Linked DNA regions of Homo sapiens. The protein of the gene in region 1 purifies or fractionates together with the protein of each later gene. This does not show direct contact. Each region holds a gene or a part of one and is shown on either strand. Other genes may lie near its edges.

What was found. Proteins that work in one complex are often made in the same cells at the same time.
Region 2: the proteins of LYPD2 (region 1) and ARSB purify together in Homo sapiens (affinity purification with mass spectrometry; one large-scale study listed by BioGRID and IntAct). This does not show direct contact.

What each region holds. Positions count from the first base shown.
Region 1 is NC_000008.11:142,749,733-142,753,961, reverse strand, and holds LYPD2 (ly6/PLAUR domain-containing protein 2 precursor), read left to right. Parts: upstream 1-1,429; 5' UTR 1,430-1,510; coding exon 1,511-1,568; intron 1,569-2,791; coding exon 2,792-2,911; intron 2,912-3,479; coding exon 3,480-3,679; 3' UTR 3,680-3,812; downstream 3,813-4,229.
Region 2 is NC_000005.10:78,982,511-78,986,648, reverse strand, and holds the start of ARSB (arylsulfatase B isoform 1 precursor), read left to right. Parts: upstream 1-1,338; 5' UTR 1,339-1,400; coding exon 1,401-1,712; intron 1,713-4,138. UniProt on the Homo sapiens protein: Removes sulfate groups from chondroitin-4-sulfate (C4S) and regulates its degradation. Involved in the regulation of cell adhesion, cell migration and invasion in colonic epithelium.

The DNA.
Region 1 (4,229 bases):
ACACAAGTGGGGCGCTAGGGAATCCTTGGTGCCCCACTCACCACCCCTGCACACTCCACCCCCACCTAGTCTCAGAGAGACACAGGCTCTCCCAGCCACTGGGGCGAAGACCAGATCCCAAACAGCTGATGCAGCAGGAAAGTGTGGGGACACCAAAAGGGCCATGGCAGGGAGGGGGTGCGGGCAGGAGAGTGCGGTCGACCAAAGACAGAATTTCAAACACTGGGACAGAAGAGGGAAGGGCATTCCTGGCAGTGGGAACAGCAGGAGCAAAGACCAGGATGAGGTGGGATTTGGGTGCTCAGGCTGAAGAGCTCCAGTGTGAGTCTGGGCTTAGCTGAGATCATGGCCTTGACCGCCAGGGCCCAGGAAGACACAGGCTGCTTGTCACACATCCCTCCCCCAACCCCCACACCCTACACACTGGCAGCTGCAGGACTGGGAGCAGGGGGTGGCAGGATCACAGACCAGACACAACCTGGGGAGGCTGGAGCAGGCAGTCTGGGGGGATGTCCTTGGGGGGAGCTGGGAGCTGAGCAGGAGATGGTCTGAGGCATCCCAACCCAAAATCACTGTCCCCTGTCTGAGCCCCGGGTAAGGAACTTTCCCTCAATTTCCTTACCTGCAAGGAGGTGGTAAGCCCTGCCTGAGGGCAGCTTTATCAGAAGGTTAGAGATGAAGGTACCCAGCTGGCAGGTGGCTGGGGGCATGGGATTAGCACCCCCAAGAGACCCCAGCTCCTCCCCACCCCACTCTCTATCCAGGACCTTCTCTGCTGACCCAGTAGTTTTTGGCATTTGTCTCCTTAAGCCTCTGAGCACACCCTGTAGCTGGCTGTCCGGGTGGCAGTTCACTCCCAGGCCCCCAACACCCAGCCTGACCACTCAAAGGAGCTCGGAGGTGGGACCAAGGTCCTCCTGGAAAGATTCCAGCCCAGAATCTTGGAAGATCCAGCACACAGATCTGCCTTGGAACACAGATGACCTGAGGCAGGAGGGATCCCTGAGGAGCCAGCAGCAGAGAGTGGCCCGTAACACTCCCCTGCCCCCTTCCAGGCAGTCTGGGGGGTCCCTGGGCTGCCTGGGGTGAGCCAGTGGGGGCTCTCCTGGATGAGGGGGGTGGGGAGAAGAGCCGAGCACAGGGTGTGTAGGAGTCAAGGAGGGTCCCCACAAAGGGAAGAAGGGGCGGCCCCAGGCCATGGTGGCGGAGGCGGGGAGCTGGAGGGGTCAGGAAAGGGCAGGGAGGGGACCGGCCTGATACTGGAGGAATGAGGAAGGGACAGGGAGGGTCCCAGTTGGGTGGGGTGGGCCTAGAGGGCCAGGCTGGGAGTGGGAGGAGCAGCCTGGAAGGCTGGGGAGCCCCTGGAGGGGCGGGGTCTTCACACCTCCACCCTGGGGAAACTCTACCCCACTAATCCGCTCAGCAGACCAGTCTGTCGCCACCTCACTTGGTGTCTGCTGTCCCCGCCAGGCAAGCCTGGGGTGAGAGCACAGAGGAGTGGGCCGGGACCATGCGGGGGACGCGGCTGGCGCTCCTGGCGCTGGTGCTGGCTGCCTGCGGAGAGCTGGGTGAGGTGTGGGACCCACAGGGGAGCTGGGACGGAGGGAGATGCCACCCACTGACATTCACACTGTTCCCGGGAGGGCGCCCCAGGAAGGGGCCTCAGAGGCAGGAGAAGCCAGAGCTGTGGGGCCGGGGGTGTGGCCCCCCCGCCATAAGGAGGGGAGGGTGGAAACGGAGAGAGGGGCTGGCGGTGAGGGGGACGCCTAATGAGGGTGAGCAGAGGGTGGCCTTCGAGGTGGGCGGGGGCCCAGCCAGCCACACCCCTGAGCACCAGCCTGGGTGTCACACTTTATGGGGGGCTATGGGCACCCAGAAGGGCCTTGAGCGGGGGAAGGAAGGCAACCCCAGGGAGGCTCTGAGGCTGGGGTGGCAGTAGAGATGGAGAGGAGTGGGGAAACCAGACACATGGGGTGGGGTGACTCCCTGATGTGGAGCCTGAAACAACCATCAGGGGCAATGTCCTGGACTCAACCAGAAGCAGCTTGGCCCAGAGGCCCCTGGCAGATGGCTTTGCCCATTTCCCAGAAACAGGTGCACCAGAGAGGGGCAGAGGCCCCGCTGCATCCCCACAGTGGGGACAGAGGAGTCGGGCCTAGCTGTGCAGCTGGCTGCCCTGGCCAGCTGGAACCAGCCAGACCCACCTGGGCTGCTGCGGTTGGGGCCGGGGTCACCGGAGCAGGAGGGAATTGGAGCCTCTCCGGTCCCCGTCCCTGCCGGTCTGCAAGTCCCTGTGGGAGAGGAGTGGGCACCCAGACACAGCCCGGATGCAGCCTGGCACACCCTGCATTCCATGGGCCTCCTGGCCTGATCCCTTGACCTCCACAGCAGCACTTCCCTGATGGGGAAACTGAGGGGGTAACCTGCCCCCAGCCACGCCCCCACCCAAGGCTTCCTGCCCGAGGTGCCTCTTGCTATGAAGATGCCAGGGCCTTGGTCCCCCTGAGTCTCCCAAACACTTCCAAAGGGGCTTGGCTTGGCTCCTCCCAGGCCTTGCAGGCTGGATCCCCACCCCCAGCAGCCGACTCTGCCTCTGGGATGCAAGGTTCCGAGGCTGAGCCCGGCCTGTCCCCAGCTGCAGGCTCCTGGCATTGCTCCTGAGTTTTGGCTGGTAGGCATCTCTACCCTGGCCAGTGTCACTGTCCTCTTCAGACCTGGGCTTCCAGGACAGACTGTCTCTGGGCTTGGGAGGGGTGGAGCCTGCCTGACCGCCCTTGTCCCTTCTCCCCAGCGCCGGCCCTGCGCTGCTACGTCTGTCCGGAGCCCACAGGAGTGTCGGACTGTGTCACCATCGCCACCTGCACCACCAACGAAACCATGTGCAAGACCACACTCTACTCCCGGGAGATAGGTCAGTGGGCACAGAAGGCGGGCAGGGCCGGGTTCCCGGTCAGAGCCACCTCCAGCCCAGTCACACTCTACTCCCAGGAGATAGGGCAGTGAGCACGGAAGGCGGGCAGGGCTGGGTTCCCGGTCAGAGCCACCTCCAGCCCAGTCACCACCAGCCAGCTTGGCCCCAGTGCACAGCCACCACCTCACCCATCTCCAGAAATGGCTTTCTGCCCGAGCTAGGCCTCCCTCTGCCCTCCCCTTCCTTCCTCTCTCCCTCATGTCCTTCGGTGGGAACATATCTGCAACCTCGTTTTGGGGGGACTGGAGAAGCTGGGCACACTTACAGGCTTTGGTTTCAACAGTCACCTCGGGGCGGGAACTGCCCCATCAGGCCGGGTGCCTGGCACATGGTAGACACCCGGACAACGTCGGTGGGAGGAGAGAGGAAGAGGAGGGCACTGGGCCAGGAGGGACGGAGACCCGGGTGGGTGACCCCAGAGTGGGGCCTGCATGAGGTGGTACTGGCAGGGACCAGGGCTTGGAGGCAGTGACCAGCCCTGACGGCTGACTCTTCCCACACCCCACAGTGTACCCCTTCCAGGGGGACTCCACGGTGACCAAGTCCTGTGCCAGCAAGTGTAAGCCCTCGGATGTGGATGGCATCGGCCAGACCCTGCCCGTGTCCTGCTGCAATACTGAGCTGTGCAATGTAGACGGGGCGCCCGCTCTGAACAGCCTCCACTGCGGGGCCCTCACGCTCCTCCCACTCTTGAGCCTCCGACTGTAGAGTCCCCGCCCACCCCCATGGCCCTATGCGGCCCAGCCCCGAATGCCTTGAAGAAGTGCCCCCTGCACCAGGACTCCTGAGTCTCCTTTCTGGGCACAGACCTGCCCTGCTGCATCTCTGACCTCGTCGATGTCCCCGTTCCTGTGTGTCTGTCTCTCTTCCTGCCTTCCTGTGATGTTAAGCTCTATCCCATCGTGAGAACAGCCACTGGGCCTGGGACCCCCACACAAACCATGCAGATCTCTGCCCTCAGGGGATGTGGGGGCCTGACCAGGGTGGGGCAGCAGCTGAGACCCTTCGGCAAGGGAGCACCACATCTACCAGGGTGAAGTCAGGGCCATCTCCTTGGAGGAGGGGGCATTAGGGCCAAGCCTTGAAGGATGGAGAGATCTGGCAGGCCTTGAGGAGGGCAAGGCATGTCAGGTGGAAGGAAGGTCAAGGCAGTGACCAGGAGCTGGGGTTGTCCTCTGGAGCACCCCACTACCCACCTCCCCAGCCTGAGCAGGGCCTTGCCCCAAGGCTGATGGCGGAGGCTGCTTTGAGGAGGAGA
Region 2 (4,138 bases), on another chromosome or scaffold:
CATAAACTAATCTACTTCATGCAAAGAAAAAAAGTGTATGTAAGAGGCAAACATTTCATGTGTTAAAGGATTCTTGGGGAAAAAAAGGTAAAATCATGACCCTCATACAAATATAAAAGTGAATACATGATTTTATTTAACTCATTAATAAGGAAATTGGTAAGGTGTTAAAACCAATTCAAAGGACAATCCAAAGAACAGATCAGGAATACTAAAATAAATATGCAAGCGGAGGTGAAACTGTTTTCCTTGGTAGTGGTGGAGGGGAAGGATTGCTACTCCGCTGGATAAAGTTCATTTGTGTATATATAAATAAGAATTATTTTCCATTGTTATTTATCTATAACTTATAAAGTTGTAAACAACTTCCACGGAATCAGACTCAACCTGGAAGGGTATGGTCTCTAGGCAATGCAAAAATTTTCCCCTACACCTGTTAACAACTATAATATCTCCAGACAGAGTAGACAGAAAGTCTGGATGGCAACGGGAATCTACTGGTCATACGGCTAACTTCCTAATTCAATAAGCACGTGACTAAAGGATTTTTTCCTTCCACTCAGATATTTCAGGCTAACTAGATACTGTGTGCTTCTTAGTGTCACTGCTTAGTGGGGGAGCCAGCTCTGAGTGGGGTCATATCCGGACAAGCGAATGAGCTATTTATTCAATGACCACGCAACACTCCAAATCCTCCCAGGGCAACTTGAAAGTAACCGCACCTTCCAAAGGGCACCGTGCAATCAGACTGTGTGTTTGGCCTCCTGTTTGCTAGTGGGGAGGAAGCGGCTTCATGGGTGTACACTACGCATAAATGAATGTGAAAGGCTATTTAGACCTCTGCCTTTTCACCGTCCTCCCACCTGCCACAGGCTGGGCTCTTGTGCTAGAAATGACTTGCTAGCTAGACATCATGGTTCAGGATCTGAGTCAGAGGTTTAACCATTTATAAGCTTTTTTCTTATGAAAAATTGGCACTAATTATAATGTCTAACTGTCAGAGTTGTTGCAGGCTTTACAGGAGACGCGGGCTGTGAAGATGCTTTGTAAATTGTGAAGCGTTATTAAAGAACACATCTTTTTTTTTTAGGAAACCACAGTGCAAATTTAATTGCCGGGGAAGATAACGGGCCTTGGTGCCCTCCAAGCGTCAGCTGAGTTTCCAAGAAGCCGGGCAGCGGGCGCCCGCGGGTTCGTCTCTGGCTCCTCCTCCGCCACAGCAGCCGGGGGCCCGGGTCGGAGGCGGCGGGGGCCGAGCGCCCGGCCTCGCAAGCCCACGGCCCGCTGGGGGTGCCGTCCCGCGCCGGGGCGGAGCAGGCCCCGGCAGCCCAGTTCCTCATTCTATCAGCGGTACAAGGGGCTGGTGGCGCCACAGGCGCTGGGACCGCGGGCGGACAAGGATGGGTCCGCGCGGCGCGGCGAGCTTGCCCCGAGGCCCCGGACCTCGGCGGCTGCTCCTCCCCGTCGTCCTCCCGCTGCTGCTGCTGCTGTTGTTGGCGCCGCCGGGCTCGGGCGCCGGGGCCAGCCGGCCGCCCCACCTGGTCTTCTTGCTGGCAGACGACCTAGGCTGGAACGACGTCGGCTTCCACGGCTCCCGCATCCGCACGCCGCACCTGGACGCGCTGGCGGCCGGCGGGGTGCTCCTGGACAACTACTACACGCAGCCGCTGTGCACGCCGTCGCGGAGCCAGCTGCTCACTGGCCGCTACCAGGTACGCGGCGCCCCCGCCGCCCGCGCCGCCCCCGCCCCGCCTTTCGCCGGCGCCCTGCCGCTCCTACCCGGCCCTTGAGGCCGCGGGCGCTGGCAGGCGGGGCTCGGACCGCCGACCCAGTTATGGGTCCCGGCGGCTTCTCGCCCCAACCTCGCTCTTCCAGGCCGGCAGCCCGCCGCGGCCTCTGCGCATGCCCGGCTCTGGCGCCCCGCGGACCCGCGCCCCGGCCGCCGGGTTGGGCGGGTGGCTTTGTCTTTCGTTTTCTGAAGCTCCGGGCGAAGGGGTTTATGGGAATGCCGGGTGCTGGGCGCCGCGGCCGGCAGGCGGAGCGGTCCTGAGGTGGGAGGCTGGGGAGGGCGTGGGCTGGGAGCAAAGACGAGGGGAGAGGTAAAATGAAGGGGTGCTCGCCGTGGGTGCGACCCTGGCCCGTGGGAACCCAGCGGTGATAGGTTAGGAGTGTCCCACCAAAGATTATTTTTTTCCAGGTTCTCAACACCCCTGGAATGAAACCTGATGCTAGGTTGATTTTTCTTAGGCTGCTGACATTCCTTTCACATGTAACCTTGTATTGAACTCTTCTGAGCATCTTCATTATCGCTTTAAAAGCTTCCCTTTAGGAACGGCTCCACAGTTAACGAAGGAAATATAAATGTAGAGCGTGCATAGATGTTAGATGGCTAAGAATATCAAGAACATTTGCATAGCACTTTGTTGTTTTTAAAGTGAATTATTGAAACAGTGCATGAGGTAGTTGTTTTTACCCCGTTTTACAGACGAGGCAGGAAGCCTGTAAAGGCTCGTTGGCATAAGAATCGCACAGCTAGAAAGTGGTCAAGGCAGTGTCCGTTGTGCTTTTCCTGCATCCACTGGTCGTCCCGGGCTTATGAAATTGGCCTTTTTTCCCCTCAATCTGAATACGATTGTCATATTTCTAAGACCCTGAAGTTATTATGACCATATTAAATACAGTAAATGGGAACTGTTGGATACCACCTGCATGCCTTCACAGAGTACATATGCTGTTTACTCAACAAAAATATTTTGAGCTTACTGTGCTACTGACAGGGGATATATATTTGAATGTTGCCCTCCCAAGTGTGTGTTCGCATAACCTGTCAGATCAACCCTAGCCTCACGTGGTCCTAAGATCAAGAGAAGGGAGGGCTTACTTGTGATAAAGATATGCGCAGTGGTCTGAAGGCTTTTATAAAGAGGAAAGATTGGGTGTTGCTAAGGGTGAGAAATAGCTGTAGCCAAGGTTAGAAATGGGAGTAAAGGATGCTTCCCTTCACCATCCACCTTAGTACTTTTGGCGGTTCTGACCTTGGCTGCTACGTGTAATTAGGAATCCCCTACATTGTGTAAATCTCACCCTGGACACTTTGTGGGAGTAAAGGGATGTGCCAGTAAAGAAGAAGAAGAAGGGAAAGGTGAGGTTTGCCCAAAGGGTTCTGCATTTGCTTTGAAGTAAGAGAACTGAACTCAGATTGCAAAAGAATGGAAGGGCCATTCATTTCTCCAACTTCCTCCCTTCCAACAGAGTTGGACAGGAAAGCAAATACCAACTTCAGAAACCCATTCCTGGGCCGGGAACGGTGGCTCACGCCTGTAATCCCAGCACTTTGGAGGCTGAGGCAGGTGGATCACCTGAGGTCAGGAGTTCGAGACCAGCCTGACCAACACGGCGAAACCCCGTCTCTACTAAAACTACAAAAATTAGCCGAGTGTGGTGGCATGCGTCTATAGTCCTAGCTACTCGGGAGACTGAGTCAGGAGAATCGCTTGAACTCGGGAGGCAGAGGTTGCAGTGAGCCGAGATCGCACCACTGCACTCCAGCCTGGGCGACAGAGCAAGACTCCATCTCAAAACAAAATAAAATAAAAAACCCATTCCCGTAATCAGTTGCTTTTGTCCCCTAACATCCTCCCCCACCAGTCACCAAAATTATGTCTTGGAGAACAAACTTTAGTATTTAGAGTACCCCATGGTTATGAAGTAAAGGATGAGTAGAGAAGCTGGGCACTCTGAAAGGTTTAGAGGCCTCTCAGTGTAGCTGATTCTAAAGCAGCCTTGCTTCCCCAAACATTTTTTTTCCTCCAGTTTTCTCACCCACTTTATTCTCTTAGAGTTCATGAGACCCAAGTAGATGTTACCCAGGGTGAGCAAGTGTCCACTTTTAATGAAGTAGAAATTTCAGGGAAGGCTCAGGAGTCTCCGTCAGATACTATATGCTGGTATTGTTCTGAGCACTTACAAGTGTTAACTCATTTGATTCTCACAACAACTCTATCATCTCTGTTCTGTAACAAGGAAACTGATGCTGGAAGAGGTTAAGAAACTTGCCCAAGGTTACAGGGCTAGTATATGTTGGACCAGGATTTGACCCAGGGCACGTGGCCCTAGGGTTGATGCCTATAACCACTAA